Linked DNA regions of Homo sapiens: region 2 is linked to region 1. The links come from fine-mapping of genetic effects on gene expression. A gene starts in region 1. The other region holds a variant in brackets. All regions are shown on one strand. Distances are between the middles of the regions.

Region 1 (10,221 bases):
GGCATGAGCCACCGTACCACCCCTTAAAGAACTTTCAACTTGAAATATAGCATATACACAGAAAAGTGCTCAAATCGTAAGTGTGCAAGTTGGTGAATTACTACTAACTGAATATACCTCCTTGATCAGCACCTAGCTTCATAAACAGAACATGAGCAACACCCTGAAAGCCCCCATGTAACCCCTTTTAGTTGCCACTCCCCAAGGGTTAGCCACTATGCTCACTTCTTTCCTGATGTGCTTTTCAACTTAAAAACCACATACTAACCATCCTGATAAAGAAATACAACACGTTCTATATTTTATATCATATATACATTACCATTATATTTCACATGAAGTCAAAGTCCTCTGTGCCTCTGCCTAGCTCACAGTCCCGCCTTTCTCCCCCAACCTCTGAGAAAGTGAAAACTGCCCCTGACAGTTTGGAGCTGGCTTTCGCTATCGGGCAGGCTTTGGGGTTGCCAGGTGCCGGCCTGGCACTCACAGGTAGACTGTGGTGTTCTGCTGAACACAAACCATTTCACAGAAAACCATCAGACAGGCCACTCTATGACTATGACGGTTCGAGACCAAGACAAGGCCACTGCGGAAGAACGTCTGAGCACAGACGACTGTGTCCAAACTCCAAAAGATGACCAAACCTCCCCCTTCCCTGGCTAATGTGAGTGACTGCTGCATCTTTATCCATTACAGCGTTAGCACCTCTTTGTCCCTTCTGTCTTCTAGAAACAAATTATTAACATACCCAATTACAGGCCAGGTGCAGTGGCTCACACTGTAATCCCAGGACTTTGGGAGGCCATGGTGGGCAGATCACTTGAGGCCAGGAGTTCGAGACTAGCCTGGCCAACATGGCAAATCCCCGTCTCTACTAAAAACAGAAAAAATTAGTTGGGCATGGTGATGCATGCCTGTAGTCCCAGCTATTCGCGAGGCTGAGGCATAAGAATTGCTTGAACCCAGGAGGTTGCAGTGAGCTGAGATCGTGCCACTGCACTCCAGCCTGGGCAACAGAACTAGACCCTGTCTCAAAAAACAAAAAAAGATACCCAGTGACAGAAACAGCCCTGCTTCCTAACAGGATTCAATCCAGAACAAAGCCCCACTTCCTTGTAACCACCCAACACAAGCCCAACCCTACAATAAGTCCTTTCCAACATCCTCTTCCTTCTTTTTAATTGTGGTAACAGATGATACATAACAGAAATTTTACCATTTTGACCCTTCTTAAGTTTACCATTCAGTGGCACTGAGTATGTCCCGTACATGCTTTTATACTTTTACTATACAAGTATATATCCAAAAAACAATACATACTAGTGGTCTGCATGCTTTTGTACTACAAAAAATGGTATACTGTCTTGGTGCGGTAGCTCATGCCTCCTGTAATCCCAGCATTTTGGGAGGCTGAGCTGGGAGGATACCTTGAGCCTAGCAGTTCAAGACCAGCCTGGGCAACACAGCAAGACCTCATCTCTACAAAAAAAATTAAAAAGTATTAGCCAGGCATGGCGATGTGTGCCTGTTGTCCCAGATACTCAGAAGGCTGAGGTGGGAGGATTGCTTGAGTCTGAAAGGTGGAGGCTGTTGTGAGCCATGACTGAGCCACTGCACTCCAGCCTGGGTGACAGAGTAAAACCCTGTATCAAAAAAAAAAAAAAAAAAGGATCATAGCAACGCATTCTTCTGCATCTTACTTTTTTCTATATAACATGTTCTAGCATTTTAAAAACTATTAAAGTAATATATACTCATTATAAAAAATAATAAAATAGAATAAAAGTATGTAAATAGTGAAAGTCCTTCTGTTTGTTCCCCTCTCACAACTTAATCTCTCTCCCAGAACAGTCCCAGGTGTAACCTTTCAGACTATTCTACACACACCTGAACACACATATATGTACATGCTTATCCAGACAGATTCAGGCTTTTGTCATTTAATATCTCTTGGGTGTTTTTCATTTCACATTACATTTTTGTAACATATTTTGAGATCTGTCAAATATCATACTTTTTTTTTCTGAGACTTTTTTTTTTTCTGAGATGGAGTCTTGCTCTGTCACCCAGGCTGGAGTGCAGTGGCATGATCTTGGCTCACTGCAACCTCTGCCTCCCGAGTTCAAGCAATTCTCCTGCCTCAGCCTCCCAAGTAGCTGCTGGGGTTACAGGCATGGACCACCATACTCAGCTAATTTTTGTATTTTTAGTAGAGATGGGGTTTCACCACATTGGCCAGGCTAGTCTCAAATTCCTGGCCTCAGATGATTAGCCCAACAGGGCCTCCCAAAGTGCCGGGATTACAGGCATGAGCCACCGCGCCTGGTATATTATACTTTAAAGTGGCTGCAAAGAATTTGGAAGAACTTTAAAATGGTGTATGCCATGAGTATTTCTTTGCATTTTTCACCTGTCCCCACCCTACCTTTGTCTCCCGTTTTGGTGTAAATCTTGGGGATCCTGGGTGTCTTCGAGGAAGGCTGTGGCCTAATGAGAAATAAACATCAGTATCTGGTGAGTGGGGATGGCTTACACAGAGGGTCAGCTCCTTCAGAGGGTCCCAGCTTGCTGCTTGTAACCTCAGAGGCAGCACTTACCCCTTACTGCTTAGATGGTCATCTCTTGTTGATTTCTTTCCCCTAGATCCTTTCTAATAGCAAACATTTTGTGGGCAAGACCAGAGCTGGATGACAGAGTGTGTAGAGTAGCTGATGTAATGCCTTGCTCAACAAAGATGCTCAATAAATATTTGCTGAAGGACTTGATTGATCCTTTGCCATTGTCCCTGCACTGTGCCAAGTAGTTTACAGGCATTATCTTCTGGAATTATCCTGGAATCTTTCCACAACCCCAAAGGTAGCCAACACCTATTCTCTTCATTTTACTGAGGAGGAAACTATGGCTCAGATGAGACACCTTCCTAGACCATCCAAGAAGAGGCAGGAGTGGGATGCCCAAAACTGTCCTAGACCAGAGCACAAACTGTAACTTCTATCCTACCGAAATTATTTATTTATTTATTATTATTATTATTATTTTGAGATGGGGTCTCACTCTGTCACCCAGGCTGAAATGCAGTTGCACGATCTAGGCTCACTGCAACCTCTGCCTCCCAGGCTCAAACAATCCTCCCACCTCAGCCTCCCGAGCAGCTGGGAGCACGGGTGTATACCACCACACCCAGCTAATTTTTTTTTTTTTTTTTTTTTGGTAGAGACGGGTTTCACCATGTTGCTCAGGCTGGTTTTGAACTCCTGAGCTCAAGCAATACTCCTGCCTCAAACTCCCAAAGTGTTGTGATTACAGGCGTGAGCCACCGTATCTGGCCTATGATTATTTTGTTCACAGACAGGGTCTTGCTCTGTTGCCTAAGCTGGAATGCAGTGCAGTGGCATGATCATAGCTCACTGCAGCCTTGAACTCCTGAGCTCAAGTGATCCTCTGCCTCAGCCTCCCAAGTAGCTAGGACTCTTAACTCTATCCTACCCAAATTTTTATCTTATACTCCACCAACTCAGGGCCTCTTGCAGGAAAAGAAACCTGAGCCACTTCCATAGTATGAGGCTTCGAGTGTACTCAGAGATGAAGAATTGCCAAAATACAGCTCAAAAAGTGGCATTTTCAAAAAACAATGTAAACAACTCAAGGACATAGCTCAAAATTAAAATGTGACATTACAAGCCCATTCGAAGGTTAATTTCCTGGATCTGTGAACTAAATTAATCCATTATTAATCCACGGTACTCTAGAGGTTCTGAGGTCTGGGTTGAGGTGCAAGTTTCAAGGAATATGAGGAAAGCCATCTTTAGAAGGTGCTGGTGTATCTGGGACCTGGGGAATAAACTGCTTTGGAGATTGGTCACAATCTGAGTCGAGAGCCCTCCTGGCCCACATGGGATATGCCCTGCCCTGCCCGATGATAGCGGGACTTCATTGGGACTTAGGCAAAGACTACCTGGTCTCTGGCGCCCACGTGGCCCACGTTGCCATGGTGACGTCAGAACAGCGTGGAGACGTCACCTGACGGTTGCCGCGGTGACCTCACGGCGGTGTGACGTACCCATGGCGACGACACCACGATTCACGGCAGGTGTTCGAGTTGCCCTTCCCGCCAGCCACTCACCTGTCCCCGTCTTCCACGCCCTGAGGGCCGCGGCTCTGGAAACGGGGATACAGGAGCCTGGCGGCGCCGAAGCACCCGCGCAGGCCAAGACGGCTCCCCAGGCCAAGACGGCTCCCCAGGCCGCACACAGCCATGAGCCAGGCTGCTTGACGGGACCTGACCCCGCCAGGTTCCCGTCCAGTCCGCGGGGTGACTCCACCCACAGCTGGCCGCGCCACCGCTCAGGTTTCAATTTTTATTGGTTCGCAGTTCTCACCCCAGGGCGGGACACTCCCAGGGACTTGTTTCCCATTGGTTTAACGGAAGGAGCGGGGCGGGAAAACCCGTGTCGGCTTGGCTGCAACACCTATTGACCAATGTTCAAGCCTATTGGTAAAGGTACTCCGGGCTCGCGCGCTCTGATTGGCTGGCCTGAAGTACAACGCCTCCTCCCCTTGAGGCACGGGCGCTCTGGGTTGTGGGAGTTGGGGAGCTGCTCCGGCTTCGGCGCGGAGGGGCGGCGGCCGGGGAGGCGGCGGCGGCGGCAGGTGAGAGGCCGGGGTCGGGCGGCCGGGCGGCGCGAGGTCCTAGACCCAGGACGACGCTGAGCCAGGCGTCCAGCTTCTGTGGCTCAGTTTACCCAGCTCTGAGAGTCTTGCCCCGAGGGATCGGCGACCTCAATCTGACAGTCGTGATTTTGAGCTTGACAAGCAAGGGGATTCCCCGCTCTGAGCCTCAGTTTTTCTAAGAAATGGGGATCACGATAGTACTTAGCTCATAGTACACCTGAATCTTAGCGTAAGGTAATCTACGTAAAGCCTTAAGCGGAGGATAATTTTGCGTTATGTATAAAAGTGTAAATTGCACACACCTATAGACCCTGCAAGCTCCTTTCTAGGACTCTGTCCTGCAGAAATACTCATTTAAGTGTGCAAAACGAGGCGTACTGGGTGTTTTCTGCAGCCTTGTTTATAATTGTGACACATTGGAAACAGCCTAAATGTCCAGCAAAGAGTTCTTTCTGCTCCATGATTTCATGTAATTTCTACCTTTAATAGTAGTAGTTGTAAAAGCTGAAACGAAGAACAGAGCCAGTAATAAGTAGCTCTCAGTAATTGAATGATTAGTAGGTGCCAGACACCGCCAAGTGTTTCCCTTGCGTTAATTTAACCTTCCTAACATCCACCGAGGTAGGTACGGTTATTTTCTCTCCATATAACGTGTGGGGAAACCGAGGTTCTTAGCCATTTAAGTGAGTTAACTAAGATGACATCACTGGGGAGTGGAAGAGCTGGCATTTGAACCCAGATCTGTTGGATGTGTCCAGTTGACTCCTGCATTGCCTTTCTGGTACGTAGCAAGTGCTGGACGGTAACTACCTTTTTTGTTATTATGATGGGCTTGAACTAGGTGTTCTAAGATCTCTTCCTGCTGGTTCTGACATCTAGAGATCTTTGCTCTTCTCATTGGCTTTCCCTTTTAGGATTCCCAGGAGCCATGTTGTCAGAAGTCCTACTGGTGTCTGCTCCGGGGAAAGTCATCCTTCATGGAGAACATGCCGTGGTACATGGCAAGGTACAAAGCCGTTAGAGCCTTTAAGGATTGGGTACCCCTTCTCCCTGATGCTAATTTTGTAAGAAGGTAAAAGGACACCCTGAGGCACAGCTTGGGAGCAGATCAGAGAGATCAGGTTCTCCCCAGCCAGGCAAGGAAAAGATTTCTTATGCCCACTGAAGGGATTCTTGGGCCTCGCTCGGTATGATAGCAAAAAGATGATTATAATATAAAGCCCTGTGAGTGGAATGAGATCACCTAGGAGTGAGCTTTGATGCAGAAGGAAAGAGGTTTGAGAACTGAGCTCCGGGGCACTAAGACATTTAGAAGTTGGAAGGATGATCTAGCAAAGGAGTTGAAAACATCCATTATCTCATTTTACCCTTACAGCTACCCCCAAGGCATACCCTTTTATTATCCTATTTTACAAATGTGCAAACTGAGGCTTAGGAGAGAAGTGGTAACTTGATCCAAGTCCTATATACCTTGGTAGAGCTTGGTGTGAACCTAAGTCTGTCTGAAACCACCTCTGCTGCACTCTGCTTTTTTTTTTTTTTCCTGAGACAGTCTTGCTCTGTCACCGGAGTGCAATCTTGCGATCATGGCTCACTGCAGCCTCCAACCTCAGCCTCCCAAGTAGCTGGGACCACAGGTGTGTACCACCATGCCCCACTAATTTTTTTCTTTTATTTTTCTGTAGAGACGTGGTCTGACACTACGCTGGTCTCAAACTCCTGGGCTCAAGTGATCCTCTTGCCTTGGCCTCCCAAAGTGCTGGGATTACAGATATGAGCCACCACACCTGGCTTCTCACTGCTATTCTTTATGTTCTTATATTTCTCATTGAAAACATGGTGATTATGGGGAAGTGATTCCTTGGTATTGAGAACCTCTGAAATTTTGCAGGCAGAAGGCAAAGTGGATTTTAACTTTTAGCTGATCGATGGTGGCTGTTCCCAGGCTTAGTGGGAGAGCATGCCAAGGTTGATTAGCAGTGTCTGGCAAGGGCATGGCTAGGAGTGGCCTCTGTGCTTATGTTTGCTCTCTTCTTAGCACGTGGGTCCTGGCCCCTTTGCCACTCACCCTCAGGCTTATTGCTTTTGTCATTTATTCTATAGGTAGCACTGGCTGTATCCTTGAACTTGAGAACATTCCTCCGGCTTCAACCCCACAGCAATGGGAAAGTGGACCTCAGCTTACCCAACATTGGTATCAAGCGGGCCTGGGATGTGGCCAGGCTTCAGTCACTGGACACAAGCTTTCTGGGTGAGTGCAAGGAGGAGAAACCAGGTGTGCTAAGAGCCTACAGAGAGGGCAGCTGGCCAGGTATTCTGGGCTGTCCCCAAGGGAGCCAGGGGCCAGCTATTTCCCGGGTGTTTTCTACCCTGACCTCATAAAATTAGCTTCACTCATTTTATTTTTTTAAAATTTATAGGTGTAAAACAATGCATTGGATCTCTGTGGGCTGTTGTGGACAGATCATCAAGGCCTATTGTTGAGTGAAAAAAATGCAAAACAGCAAACATACGTATTTAAGTATAAATATGTGTATAAATGATAGAAAAGGTCTCGGGGGCATAGACATCAGATTGGCAGTGGTGATTAGTTCTCCTGGGAGAGACCTAGGGCCAGAGAGTAGACAAAGTGACACATGTTTTAAATAAGGAGAATATATTGGCATTTTGTATAATTAAAAATTGATAAAAGTAGGCCAGGCACAGTGGCTCATGCCTGTAATTCCAGCACTTTGGGAGGCCAAGGCGGGCGGATCATCTGAGGTCAGGAGTTCGAGACCAGCCTGGCCAACATGTCGAAACCATGTCTCTACTAAAAATACAAAAATTAGCTGGGTGTGGTGGCACACACCTGTAATCTCAGCTACTCAGGAGGCTGAGGTAGGAGAATCGCTTGAACCTGGGAGGCAGAGGTTGCAGTGAGCCAAGATTGCGCCATTGCACTCCAGCCTGGGGGACAGGGCAAGACTCCATCTCAAAAAAAAAAAAAAAAATTTAATAAAAGTACAAGTTACCTATGCTTATTATTGGAAAATATAGTCAATACTGGGACATTGTAATTTTAAAAATCACCTATTATTTCCCTTCTCCTTTCCCTGACCCCAGTAATGACTCTAAGCATTTAGGCATTAATCCTTCTGGGTGATTTTCTGTAGATTGATAGAAAGATTGATAGAGACAGGGAGATATCTTGGTTTTTTAACCAAAATTGGGTCAGGCCATATAAACCATTCAGAAGTACTGATTTTTTCTTTGTGTGTCACGTGTGTGTGCTGATTTTTGACAGCACTGTGAAGATTTCATCCACTCATAAGCAGGCCAGCTTTTTCCATCAGTGGAGTCCCCTGTACCTGCCCCAGAGCTGACGTGTGTTTTCTCTGTTGTCAGTTTACTGTCTGCTCCCTGGGCTGAATGAAGCCTTGCTCTTTGGAACAGTGTTTCTCAGCCAGGATGGGGTAAATGAGAATCTTTTTGGGTTTTTTCCTTACACTGCACCTGAACCCTTGACACCTGCTTCCCATTCCCCATGAGAAACCACAGTCACTCCCATATGCCGTATGGGGATGGAGGAAGAGTTGAAAATTCTCATTTCACTTGTTGAGATGGGGTCTCACTGTGTTGCCCAGGCTGGTCTGGAACTCCTGGGCTCAAGCAGTTTTCCACTTTCCCACCTTGGGCTCCCAAAGTGCTGGGGTTACAGGTGAGAGCCACTGTGCCCAGCCAAAATCCTCATTTTAGAGCAGCCCTTTTTAACTTCATCATATCTTGGAATCACCCAGGAGTTTTTTGTGATGGTGGTGGTGGTTTTTTTTAACCAATACAGATGGATGGGCTCCTGGCTCCGCCCCTCTCTTATTGGGAGTTGGTAGTGGTGGTAGGAGTTTTTGAAAGGGGTTCCTTGGGTGATTCTGGGGACACCTCAGTTAAAAGCCACTCCTTTGGAGCGTGCATCTGAAAACAACCAGCCAGAGCACATGGAACTTGCTTTCCAAGGTGCACAGGGCCACCCAGCCAGACCAGAAATGTCTCCTGAGAACCAGCTGCAACTTGTGTATGTCAGTAGCTTGGGGTGGAAGCAGCCAGGTATGGGGGAACATGTCTCAGACCACTCCAACTCCCTCAGTGAACCTGGGGCAGGTCACTTCATCCTCTGGGCCTCGGAGCAGAGACATGTTTCCTGACTGAGGGCTGCCATGAGGATCCGACGACACTGGAGGCAGGCATTAGGGGTGCGACACAGAGTGCATTATGTAGGGAAGGGCTTGTTAGTTTTGGAGCTCTGGGAGACATACTATCTTCTAGGTTGCAAAGATCTACCATCTTTCTTTCAGTGTCCTTTTGCTCCCTCCTGATAGTAATAAACATTGAACTTTTTTTTTTTTTTTAAGAGGCAGGGTCTTACTATGTTGCCCAGGCTGGTCCCAAATTCCTGGGCTCAAGTGTTCTTCTGCCTTAGCCTCCCGAGTAGCTGGGAATATAAGCACATACCACTGCACCGTGCTACTACAGTGAACACTTATTGGGCACTTACGTGTGCCAGGCACTAAGTGTGTTCACATATGTTAGCACTCTTAGAATTCGCCAGCATTCCCTGGAAGTAGGTGGTGGTATTCATCCCCATTGTACAGATCTGAAAATTAAAGTTCAGAGGTCAAGTGGCTCAGGTTACACTTGTTGGTGACACTGAAAGGATTCAGACCCAGGTTTCTCCTAGCCCCAAAGTCCAGGCTCTTAACAGCTGTTCCATCTCGATTACAAAGCTCTGAAATACCTGGGTTCTCAATGATGCCATGACTTGGCCATTTGAGTATATCATTAATCCATTCAACACACATTTACCCAGTACTTAACCAGTGCCCGAAGTTTCCTAACACACGCATGCCCAATTCCATTTCCCAGTCCCTTGAGAATGTGACCTGAGGCTCAGCGAGTGATTTGTAAAGGTGAGCTGGCCAGAAAGGCTCTGCCTTCTCAGTGTCTCAGAGGAAAGTGGCCCAGGTTCCTGTACATCCCTGGGAACAACCTGCCTCACCTTCCCCTTCTGCCCAGGCACCGCCTCGCATTTACACTGTCCTATTCCTGATGATTATCTTTTGGAGGAGGGAAATATTTTGGGGGTTAACTTAACACTCTTTTGATTTTGGTTTTATACAATGGAAGGTGAAACCTAGGCCCTTGTGCGATTGAGCCAGCATTCTCTGTGTGTGTCTGTGTGTCTGTGTGTGTTTGTTTTAAGACTACAATTTTTTTTTTTTTTTTTTTTGAGACAGGGTCTCACTCTGTTATGCAGCCTGGAGTACAGTGGTGCGACCACAGCTCACTGTTTCTTCAACCTCCTGGGCTCAAGCGATCCTCCTGCCTCAGCCTTCTGAGTAGCTGGGACCACAGGTGTGCGCCACCATGCCTGGCTAGTTTTTGTACTTTCTGTAGAGTTGGGGTTTCGCCATGTTACCTAGGCTGGTCTCAAACTCCTAGGCACAAGTGATCTGCCCACCTTGGCCTCCCAAAGTACTGGGGTTACAGGCATAAGCGCCTGCACCCAACCTTAAA
Region 2 (11,622 bases), 38 kb after region 1:
GCAGTGACATTATTTGAGATAACAGAGGGAGCAGAAAAAGGGTCAGCAATGGAGAGAAAACGGCAGAGCCAGCAGATAAAGGGGAGGCCGGAGGGGGCGGAGCACCCTCGCTGGGGGTGCACCCCCCCATTCTTGTGATTCCTGCTCCCTAAGCCTGGCTCCCTGTGGTGGGGGCTGGAATGCCGCCCGGCCCAGGGCAGCGGAGAGGCCCAGACAGCTGCGCCGAGCCGCCCGCTCTGCTCCCCGGCAGCCCTCCTTGGCTGCCCGGCCGCCCATTCCGCCTTTTCAATTCGATTCAATTAGGCCGCCCCGCTCGGAAGCTTGTCTCCTCTGATATCCAGTTTAACTGACAGGGGATTAGTGCTGTTTGTATTACACACACACTCTCTCTCCGGCTGCCAAACTGCTGGCAGGGCCCTGGGACCCGGGTTATTTATGGAGCTGGCTGGCCATACCTTCCCTCTCGGACCTGCTTCCTTTGGAAGCAGGGGGCTGGGGGCCCTGCTCTGTGCTCCCCCTCCATCCCAACCCCACCACTTCCTGATCCAGGGGCCTGAGGGCCTGGGCAATGGAGCAGAAGAGCCCAGATAGAACTGGGTTCGAATCTCAGCTCTGCCACTTGCTGGCTGTGTGACCTTGGGTGAGCAACATTGCCTCTCAGCCTCAGTTTCTTTATGTGAAAAATGGAGACGAGGAACCGGCTCATCAGGTGGTTGTGGGGATAAAGCGAGGAGGCAGGGGCAGGGCACTGAACACAGGGCCTGCGTATTCACTGTGCATGTTCACTCAGCGCATGGGACGGGGTGACGATTCTGCACTGGGTGCTGTGCTGAGTCACAGAGGAGGTAGTGGTGGGCCATGCTGATCCAGCCTGCCTTCCAGAAGCCCACACTCAGGTGCAGGAGAGAAAAATGAACATGGAGTCCCTCCCGGTGCTCACACAGGGAGCCCTGGCTAGATGGGAGCATTGATGACAGTGATGATGATGGAGATGGAAACAAGTGCCACCCCAGGCCCTTTGCCTCTGCTGTTCCCTCTGCCTGGAACATCCCCCCGACCCCCCCACCCCCGCCACACACACACACACCTCCTCCGCACCCTCACACTTCACCTGGCTGGCATGTGGCCTCAGTTTACCACTCACCTCCTCCAAAAGCCTTCCCTGACCCACCCTCCTCCTAATGCAGTTCTCCCCTCTTGCCCTCCATCTCTCCCTTTGCTTTATGTCCAAATGTGCCATCTGTTGTTGACTTGTTGCATCGCCTGTCTCCTCAGGAAACTGCGCCTTCCTGAGGGCACACATAGGAGCCCACTCACCGGTCCCCCTGAGTCTAGCACAGTGCCTGGCTCATGCTAAGAGCTTGAGTCTTTCTGGATGAATGGATGCATAAAGGAATGAATGAATGAACAGAGAAGTAGACAGACAAAGGCCCCCTTGCCTGCAACATGGCCATCCTGCTCAGCTCAGTACATCTGGCTTCCCTAGGCCACCTGCCCAGCCCTCCAAAGGGGTTTGCTGGGTCTTGGAATAGGTGGAGGTCAGGTGCTGGTCCAAAGCAGGTGTGGATGCTTCTCTTCTTATCCTTGCTTTACTCAAAGGGAAGGAAGGGCCTTTATAGACCTTTCCTCTCAGCATTCAGGGGACTAGTGAGTACTTTGAGGTGATGGGCTGGAAGGCCCCAGGCCTAGGAAATGTCCTTATTTTGGGGAAGGGCCTCATGCTGCCAGGTCCCGTCTGCATCTTCTCCCTCACTCCGTTTCACAGATCTTGGGTGTGGGGGCACTGGCCCTGACATGCAGGTCTGAACATTTCTACAATTCAATGCAATGAAATAGTAGCCATTACTTACTGCACACACTGGTGCCAGGCTTAACACCCATGACCTCATTTCATTCTCACAAGAGCTCTCCATTCCCCAGAAGAGAAACCTGACAGTCAGAGTTGTGGTGGGGTGTGCCTGACATCACCCAGCCAGGAAGGGGTGAAGCTGGGATCAACCCCAGGACTCTGAGGTTCAATATCTGCTCATTCATCTAACATCTGCCATGTGCCAGACACTTTGGTGTGCGCTGTCTCCCGATGTCCTGAGAAGTAGGTATTCTATGCCCCACTTTGCAGAAGGGAAATTTGAGACTCAGAAAGGTGAAGTGGCTGAACCTCAGTCTCACAGCCTGCTAGGGGCAGAGCTGGCTGGAAACAAGGGTCTGCTTGAGCTCTCATCCAGTTTATAACCTCTACCCTGTGGTTTCTTCCTCAACTCAAGGCCCTGGCCCTGGGGTGTTTCAGATCGATATAGGGCGTGGGTGGGCAGGGAGGGCACACATCTATCAAGCAGCAGGTGCTGAGTTTCTCAAGAGCCCCTGAAATATGACACAGTCCCTGCTGGTAAGGGAGATGTCATCCAGTTACAAGAATATCAAATAAATATGTAAAGAGTTACAAGAATTCAATGACATATAGGAATGTTGAGTACTCTCCCAGGGTGCATGCGTGACTCACAAGTCTGAGCAGTTGGGCAGGGAAGGCAACCTTGAAAGATACATGGATTTGGAAACAGAAGCCCACAAAATAATCATTACAATTACAATGAACTGATCATTATGATGATGATAATAATCATTAATAATGACTACAATTCAGCCCCATATTTGTAGGTCTTGCTGTTCCCATTTCACAGACAAAGATAATGAAGCTCAGAGACAGGAAGCAGCATGCCTAAGGCCAGCCAGCAGGTAGATGGGGCTCAAGCGCAGAGCCTTTGATCCCAAAGTCAGTTCCTCTTCTCCAGCCCTGGACTCGCAGAGTGTCACACTCACAGAGTGTCACAAGTAGCAGGTGGTCTGGCCTGGGTCTTGATGGTTGAGCCAGCATTTGTTTCAAGGGCCAGCTTCTTGGCCAAGGGCCAAGTGTGGCTGGGGCGGAGGTATCCGGTGGAGGTACTGCCTGAGCTCAGATGAACCCTTCCCTGCCCTCCAGGGCTTACAGGGCAGAGCAAGCTAAGCAAACTGATGATGACAGTGAAGAGCAGTGGATTCTGAGTTACCATGGGAACAGGGAAGAAGAGGGGTGCCTCTTCTTCCTAGCCTGGCATGGGATCAAGGAAGGCTTCCTGGAGGAAGAGGTACCTTGGTGGAATTTTGGCTGGGCTAGAAGGTAAGAGAGGGCATTTGAGGCAGCAAAGGCACTGAAGTGAGCAATACCGTGGTGTGCGCAGAGAATCCAAACGCTGTTCTGTGTTCAGTTGGAACCTACAGTAAGTATGAGGCCAACATAAAGCAAGTTTTATCCTGAGGGCTCTGGGGAGCCAGGGTGGGTGTTAGGCAGGGATGGTGGGGTCATAATGATGCTTTATAAAGTTCTCTGGCTGCGGCATGATAAATGGAGGGGCAGGGGGAAAGGAGTCAGGTGAGAGGTACAATGGCTGGAGAGGGGCAGTGGCATTAGGGACAGATGGAGAGGAGGTGACAGATAGGAAGATTTTGTAGGTGCCTGGAGCAGCCTTTCAGTTTTGGAGTCCACCTTGTCACTCTGTTCAAGGAGCGGGTATACCCTGCTCCCTTCTTTTGAGACTGGTTCTCACTCTGTCACCCAGGCTGCTGTGTGGTGGCACAATCACAGCTCACTGCAGCCTTGAACTCATGAGCTCAAGCCATCCTACCACCTCAACCTCTCAAGTAGCTGGAACTACAGTCATGTACTAGTATGCCTGGCTAATTTTTTACTTTTTTTTTTTTTTTTTTGTAGAGATGGGGTTCTTGCTATGTTGCCCAGGGTGGTCTCGAACTTCTGGGCTCAAGCAATCCCCCACCCCTCGGCCTCCCAAAGTGCTGGGATAACAGGCATGAGCCACTGTGCCCGGCCATATACCCCTCTTTTGATAGTCTCCAGCTGGAGGTGGGGCCTCTTTTGCCGATGCCCTAGTTGGCATGGAAGCCCTTTATAACGGTGTTCTAATTAGGGCTCCCATAACAAAGTACCATAAATGTGGTGGCTTAAAACAACAGAGATTTACTCTGTCATGGTTCAGGAGGCCAGAAGTCTAGAATGAAGGTGTCGACAGGACCAGGGACCCTCTGAGACACTGGGTCCTCTGAGAACCCTCCCTTGCCTCTTCCTAGCTTCTGGTGGTGGCTGGCAGTCCTGGGCTTGCGGTTGCATCACTCCAGCCTTGGCTGTTGCTGACACATGGCCTTCTCCCTGTGTGTCTGGCTTCACATGGCATTCCCTCTTATAAGGACAGCAGCCCACCCTCATGACCTCATCTTAACTTGATTACATCTGCAAAGACCTCATTTTCAAATAAAGTCACATTCATGGGGATCCGGGGTTAGGACTTCAAAATCTCTTTGTGGGGGACACGATTCCACTCCCAATAACCCCTAAGGGGCTGGGCATGGTGGCTCATGTGGGTAATCCTAGCACTTTGGGAGGCTGAGGTGGGAGGATTGCTTGAGCTCATGAGTTTGAGACCAGCCTAGGCAATAGGGTGAAACCCCATCTATACAAAAAATACAAAAATTAGCCAGGCACTGTGGTAAGCGCTTATAGTTCCAGCTACTTGGGAGGCCAAGATGGGAGGATGGCAGGATGGCTTGAGCTCAAGAGTTCGAGACCAGCCTGAGCAACATGTCGAAACCCCATCTCTACAATAAAATACAAAAATTAGCTGGGTGTCGTGATGAATGCTTGTAGTCCCAGCTATTCGAGAGGCTGAGGTGGGAGGATGGCTTGAGCCCAGGAGGTAGAGGTTACAGCGAGCCGAGATTGCACCACTGCACTCCAGCCTGAATGACAGAGCCAGACCTTGTCTTAAAAAAACAAAACAAACCCTAAGGGCAGGGGTTTTGCTGGTTGTTTCTGCCTCTGTGGTCTCCAGCCAGAGCCTGGCATATGTCTGTGCCAGAGGGGAGTTGTGGATAGAGTCAGAGTGTCCAGTCTCTCCCCGTGGGTGACCGCAGCCCCTGCTGCCAACAGCAGCAGCCACAGCCCGCTTGGCATCTGGGCAAGGCAGGTCTCCCGGGAAGCCCCCTCCCACGGGCTGTTCTCCGAAAGAAGTGGTGTTGATGTCGGCAGGTGCCTGTCACTTCCCTTCCCCAGCAAAGTCTCAAACTGTCAGAATAAGTGAAATAGTCATTGCCTATCTCTGCGTTTGAGATTTTATTGGCAGTTTCATTGTCACCCAAAACAACCTCCTTTTCTCCGTTGGCGTTTTCATCAGATGGGTCTGTGGGCAGGAGGAGGAGGCAGGGCTGGCTCCTAAAAACAGGCCTGGGCAGGTCATGGTGCTGGCTCCACTGGGCTGGAGTCAGCAGGGGCAAAAGACCCCGTGGTGGGCTCTGCCATGCCTTGGCTCCTGCAGAAAGCTGCTGGGCACTCTCTCCAGGGAGCAAAAAGGAAGTGAGAGACGGAAGGTAAAAACACCCTGAGAGCCCCTGGAGATGGTCACAATGGCCAGATGGGGCAGCCCAGACTGCACAGTGGGTCCTCAGGCCCTTCCCCAGTCCTCCCTGGTGGGAATTAGGGGGGCATTATGGTGGTGGGGTAGGAGCATGGGCTGTGGCATCAGACCCACCTGGCGGCAGGCACCTCAGAGCAAGCACTTCTCCCTGCAGAGCCTCAATGTGCCTGTCTGTCAAATGGGGTGGTAACAGG[A/T]ACCTTCCATCAGCTGAGGGCTTGATCTGGGCCACACACCCAATTATCCTGTTCAGTCCTCCCCAGAACCGAGAGAGGTGGGTGTGCTCAAGCTCTTCATTTTCTTGATATGGAAACTGAGGCAGCCCGACCAAGGTTACCACAGCAGGCAAATTGCAGGGGTTGGGTTTGAATCCAGGCTGTGAGACTCCAAGCCTGGTTGTGAATCCACTTTGGAGGGTTAGTGGAAGGAGTGTAGGTGATATTATTTTTTTTTTTTTTTGAGACAGGGTCTCACTCTGTTGCCCAGGCCGGAGTTCAGTGGTGCGATCACGGCTCACTGCAGCCTCTACCTCCCAGGCTCAATTGATTCTCCTACCTCAGCCTCCCAAGCAGCTGGGACTACAGGTGTACACCACCACACTCAGCTAAGTTTTAATTTTTCCTAGAGGCGGGATCTCTCTGTTGCTCAGGCTGGCCTCGGACTTCTGGGCTCAAGTGGTCCTCCCACCTTGGCCTCCTGAAGTGCCAGGATTACAGGTGTGAGCCATTGTGCCCGCTGGTAATAAAGTGTCAACAGAGTACTAGGCACATGGGACAAAAAGCCATCTGTTATTGTTGTCTGGGCATGGGGTAGAATCTGGGCCCCTTGGCAGTCACTCTCTGTCCTGGGACTTTCTGGACATCACTGGGTAGTTTCACCCACAGGGTGGCCTAAGGAACCTCCAAGGGAATGGGGTGAGCTCAGGAGTTCCACTGAGACTGGGGGTCCCTGTGTGGGGCTCAATCCTGCTTCATGCTGTGATCCTGCTGGTGTACTCTGTCCCTGGCCCCCAGCAGGGCTGGGTGCCACTCTACCACATCCAAGCATCACAGAAGGGAATCTGAGGCCCAGAGAGCTGTCCCTTGCTCAGGGCTCCTGAGCCAGGGAGGTGGATACAGTGGTTAGAACCACAGATTGTGGAGTCAGTGAACTCCATGTTTGAGTTCTGGTGTGGCCACCTGCTGGTTGGTTAACAAGTTGCTGAGTCTCAGAGTCTCAGTTGCATCCTCTGCACATTGGGATAATAAAGGATTCCTCTGGAGACTGGGTGCTGTGGCTCTCACCTGTAACCCAGCTACTCAGCAGGGAGGTTGGCTTGAGCGGGGGAGTTCGAACCTGTAGCCCCGGTGCTACTCAGCAGGGAGGCTTGCTTGAGCCCGGGTGTTTGAGGCTGCAGTGAGCTATGATCACACCACTGCACTCCAGCCTGGGTTACAGAGTGAGACAGTCTCTAAAAAAAATCACATCCCCCTGCTAAGGCCGAGGGGACAAATGATGCTACACAGAAGACATTAGCACACAGAGAAAAGAAGACAGAGTTTTGGCATCTACAGGCTCCTTGAAGATCTCAGACTCCAGCCCATTCTTGGTGCAGAGGAGGAAACTGAGGCCCAGAGATTAGGGAGGGTTTCCACTTAGCCACCCCGCAGAACAGGGGCTTGTTCCTTGGCCCTGTAACTCCCGATCCAGAATGTCAGCCACCTCCCCAGCTGGCGTCGTCCCGGGAGTCCCCTCCGCCCCTCACCTGCCCTTCTCCCCGTGTCTCTGCCTTCGAGAGCCCAAGCTGCGGGCCCGCAGTGAGGAATGCCATTCTCCCTCTCCCCGGCACACTGAAGGTTTTGAAAGTTAAAGTATTACCGTCGGCTTTGTTGTTGCCTAACTACGACAGACAAATTGAGAACCAGTTGTCAAAATGTCAGTGCACAACAAATCAACATGCAGAACGAGTCTCAGCGCTCTGCGGTGTATAATTAAACAAAAAATCCCTTTTAGAAATTTCAGCGAGCGTTGGTTCCACTTTATATTTGTCTGTGTGATTAATAAAGGCAGCTAATTTTCAGACTTTAAAAACAGCTAGAAAATAGCTCCTAATTACATATTAGGTTCCTCGCGGCCCCCGCTGCGCTCCGCCGGCATTGGTGGGCCGAAGAATTTGGCAGAGTCTTAATTGCATTCTGAGCATCATCTAATTTTAGTTAAATGTAATGTAATCAGCAGCAGATGTCTGAAATAAAATATGAATTATGAATATGATGAAATTTCATTCTTGAATAAAAAAGTAATTTGCTATTTAGTTCATTAAAGTCATAGAGGTTTATTAGGAGCAGGTATATATGGCCCGATGAGGGTATATATTAAGTGATACTGGGAGACAGAAACCCCAAAGGGATGGGAAACTTCATCCAGGAGAGTTCAGTTATGATTAATGACTGTGGGGGCTGGAGAGGCTCCTGGGGACCCTGAGTTTACCCAGCCGGAGAATTCCCTCGGGCTCTTTGAGGAAGGCCCTGAGTTTTGGGACAAGGGGACTTAGAGAGGAAAGCCCTGGGTGCTGCCCCTGAGCCCTGTCCCACCCCTGACACCCACCCCCACCTCCTTACCGCTTCCAAGATGGGCACAGTGGAGAGCTGGCTCCTTGGACATTGCTCTATGCAGGACACTCACCTGGGCCTGGTGACACAGCATGAGGTGGTGATCAGCTTCTTACACACTGAGCAGAGATTGGGGCTCTGCCTCTCGCTGTGTGACCTCAGGCCAGAACCTCAGTTTCCCTTTCTATACAAGGGGACTAATCATAGTACCTATCAGACACTCTGAACAGTACCTGGAATGTGGCAAAGCCCTCGTTTAGCGTTAGCTGCTGGAGTTGCTGTTATTAGCTGTAGAGGTCATATTTTAAATTAGTATTAAAATGCCTTCTTTTGTTTTCAGTCTGTGTGTGTGTGTGTGTGTGTGTGTGTGTGTGTGTGTGTATGTGTGAGACGGAATCTCACTCTGTTGCCCAGGCTGGAGTGCAGTGGCACGATCTTGACTCACTGCAACCTCTGCTCCCCGGGTTCCAGTTATTCTCCTGCCTCAGCCTCCTGAGTAGCTGGGATTACAGGTGTGAGCCACCACATCTGGCTAATTTTTGTATTTTTAGTAGAAATGGGTTTCACCATGTTGGCCAGGCTGGTTTGGGACTCCTGACCTCAGGTGATCCACCTGTCTCAGCCTCCCAAAGTGCTGGGATTACAGGCATGAGCCACCGCACCCAGCATGTTTTCATCTTTTTTGTTTGCTGTTTAGAGATAGGGTCTCACTCTGTCACCCAAGATGGAGTGCAGTGGTACCATCATAGCTCACTGCAGCCTCCCAACTTTGGGCTCAAGCAATCCTCCTGCCTCAGCCTCCCAAGTAACTGGAACTACAGGGCACACACTACCACACCTGGCTAATTTTGTATTTTTTATTGTTTTGTAGAGACAGGGTCTCACTATGTTGCCCAGGCTGGTCTTGAACTCCTGGCTTCAAGTGATCCTCCTGACTTGGCCTCCCAAAGTGCTGGGATTATAGGAGTAAGCCATGGCACCTGGTCTGTTTTGTCTCGTAAGCAGCCTGTGATGCAGATCATAAGTTCTAGTCTGTTTTTTTTAGCTGAGGCTGAGGGAGGTTAAATGATGTGTCTGCAGTCACACAGTGAATAATTGCCAAAGTTGAGATTTGAACCAGAACCGTCCTGCTCCCGGTGTTCCCTGCTACATCCAGAGCAGTGCCAGGACAGCTGGCGGGAGTCCTGGCTGAGGATTCTGGAGGGGGTGGCTCATCAGCCCCAGAAGGAGACAGAGAAGAGTGAGGGACAGGCGGGTAGGATCTGCCAGAAGATGCTCTGGTCAGGTCGGGGACAGAGGCTGCCTCTCCAACCTCCCACTTCACACCAACCAATGATTTCCTGCAATTATCTGGAAAAGATTAATTAGTAAAGTGCACCATATTGACTGAAGGCCGCCCCGGCGATCGATAACTTGGGAAAGTCTCCCAGGTGCCCAGAGAAAAAAACCGAACTGGAAAGTGGGGGAGGAGGCTCATTTTGCAACCCTGGGGTTGTCCACTCGGCTCTCTGGGTCGGGGCCAGCTCTGCGTGACTCCCTCTTGGCTTCAAGCAAGACCTTTTTGCCTCTCTGAACCTGTTTCCCCACATGTAAAGTGGGGGGCTGGACTGACCCCTATCCAGGGATCTTCCTTCTACTGGAGGAAGTTCTGGGAGGAGAGCAGGCACTCTGGGGGTACCGGGGGCTGATCGGGTGGCTGCTGTGGAGGGAGCCCCCTTCTCTAGGGCTTGACTTTCCGCTGCTGATGTGGAAGACAGCTGGAGACCAAGGACGCCTCAGGGATCCATGGTGGCTGCCATCTGAGGGTGAAAGAGAATGTCTGGTCTAAGGAAGACCAACGTCTGCTGGCTACGGTTTCTGGCAGGGCAAAGAGTCAAGTGTGTGCATCATATGGGTTAAGATGATAAGCCAGGGAGACAGGGGAATAATAACCCCAAGTCCTCACTTCCCCAAGCATTGCCTTAAGGGTCTCCTTGCCTCTTTGAACCTCAGTATCCTTCTCTGTAAATAGTGCGGTCCTGTTGAGCTGCTGGGAGTCTCCGAAGGGTTGGTGTGAGCCCATGGCCCAGCCCGGTGCCTGCGCAGAGCAGGTGCAGGGTCAACAGAAGCTGCTGTCACAGTGAGCTGCTATAGTCTCCCCCAAGCCCCAGTCAGTATCCCAGCAGGACATGGCATTCCACTGGGATGGTACCAGCGAAGAGAGTTTAGTAAAGGGAGTTCTGTAAACAGAGTTGCAAACCAAACAGGGATGGTGAGACCATCAGGGTCGGGAAACAGCAAGGTCCCCCCTTCTCATTTCCAAGGTCTGATGGGGCAGAAACGGAGTTGCCAGATCCCACAAGGAGCTGGAGCCATGGAGAGGGGTGCCACGAGGTGAGCAGGAGCCTTCGTCACAAAGGGACAGATTATTGCCAGGAATGCAGCACTTAAGCCAGCTGAGTTGGGCAGAGACACCCCAAACTCTCCCTCTGCCCGCTCCCAGCCTCCCATTGGATGATTCCACCTGAAACTTAGAGGACAAGTTGCCCCTGGATGCTGTCTATGGAGGTCAGCTTCCCAGGGTAAAGAGCCAGGCAGGGAACAGGAGAACAGACCAATGGTAAAAGGGAAAAGCCTACCACAGCCCTTCTTCCCAGAAATTTGGAGAAGCGTTTTATGGGAGGAGTCTTCTGGGTGGCAGTGGGCAAGAGGGGGTCTTCACCAGGCAGAGACTTCACCCCATGTTGCAGACCCTGAGTCCCATGAGGCCTCACCTTGCCCATGAGAAGAATCTCACTTCACGCCCAGCACTCCTGAAACAGAGCTCCTTGGGAGTTGCAAGGATGTCAGACACGCCTGGGTTTGCCAATTTCCAACTTATTTGCTTATGCCCTGGATGTAGCGGCTTCACCTCTCTGAGATGAAATGACACCGCATCAGCAGCGTCCCCAGCACGGTGCTTGATGTGTAGTGGGGGCTCACAAAGCACTCCCTCCCTCCCTTTTCCACCTTCTTTCTAATAAGCCACCCGTACCACCAGCCATTTGTCTAATAGTGATTGGGCTCCTGCCACGTGCCAGGCCTGCACCGGGCCCCGGCCCAAGCTGCTGCAGAACTGAGAATCATTTGTCCTGCAACAAACACTGTCTGAGCATCTCCTCCGAGCCAGACTCTGGGGACACAGCGGCCACAAGACAGCTCTGGCCCCTGCTCCTGTGAGGTCCACGGTGTCTCAGGGAAGCAGACTGGAAGCTGGAGTTTGGGTGTTTGGGGTTTTAATGGGGTGTTGGGAGGGCCTGGATGCCAGTCAGCAGCATCCATCAAGGAAAGAACCCCTCCAGTATTCTCAGCCTGACATCTGGGAAGGAGTCCTAGATGGGGTTCTCAGTGTGCAAGACCCCAGCACACAAGTCCAAGCAGCCCTCAAATCCTGGGCCTGGAGGGGTCTGGGAGGGCTGGACCACTCAGGTACTTTCCCTCCACTCACCCCCAGGACCACCGCCCACCACCTCACCTCCCACCAGGACCTGAGGGCGCTGGCCTGCTGCCCCCTGGCCACTCCCTGGCCCAGGTCAGCCGCCTGCCCCTGCTCTATT

Evidence for each region.
Region 2: its variant is fine-mapped to the expression of MMAB in lymphoblastoid cells (GTEx, PIP 0.98).

Annotation. Positions count from the first base shown.
Region 1 is chr12:109,569,224-109,579,444 of GRCh38, forward strand. MMAB (metabolism of cobalamin associated B) reads right to left here and starts at 4,281. Exons shown (of 9, transcript NM_052845.4): 1 at 4,124-4,281; 2 at 2,426-2,487. The coding sequence starts at 4,257. MVK (mevalonate kinase) reads left to right here and starts at 4,571. Exons shown (of 11, transcript NM_000431.4): 1 at 4,571-4,650; 2 at 5,586-5,677; 3 at 6,775-6,922. The coding sequence starts at 5,600. RefSeq lists enhancers at 3,671-4,172, 4,173-4,672 and silencers at 4,432-4,561, 4,582-4,811.
Region 2 is chr12:109,606,543-109,618,164 of GRCh38, forward strand. No RefSeq gene overlaps it. Among named protein-coding and RNA genes, the nearest start is that of MVK, 39 kb to the left of the region's middle. RefSeq lists an enhancer at 4,683-5,183. The variant A/T (reference allele first, on the strand shown) is at 5,654.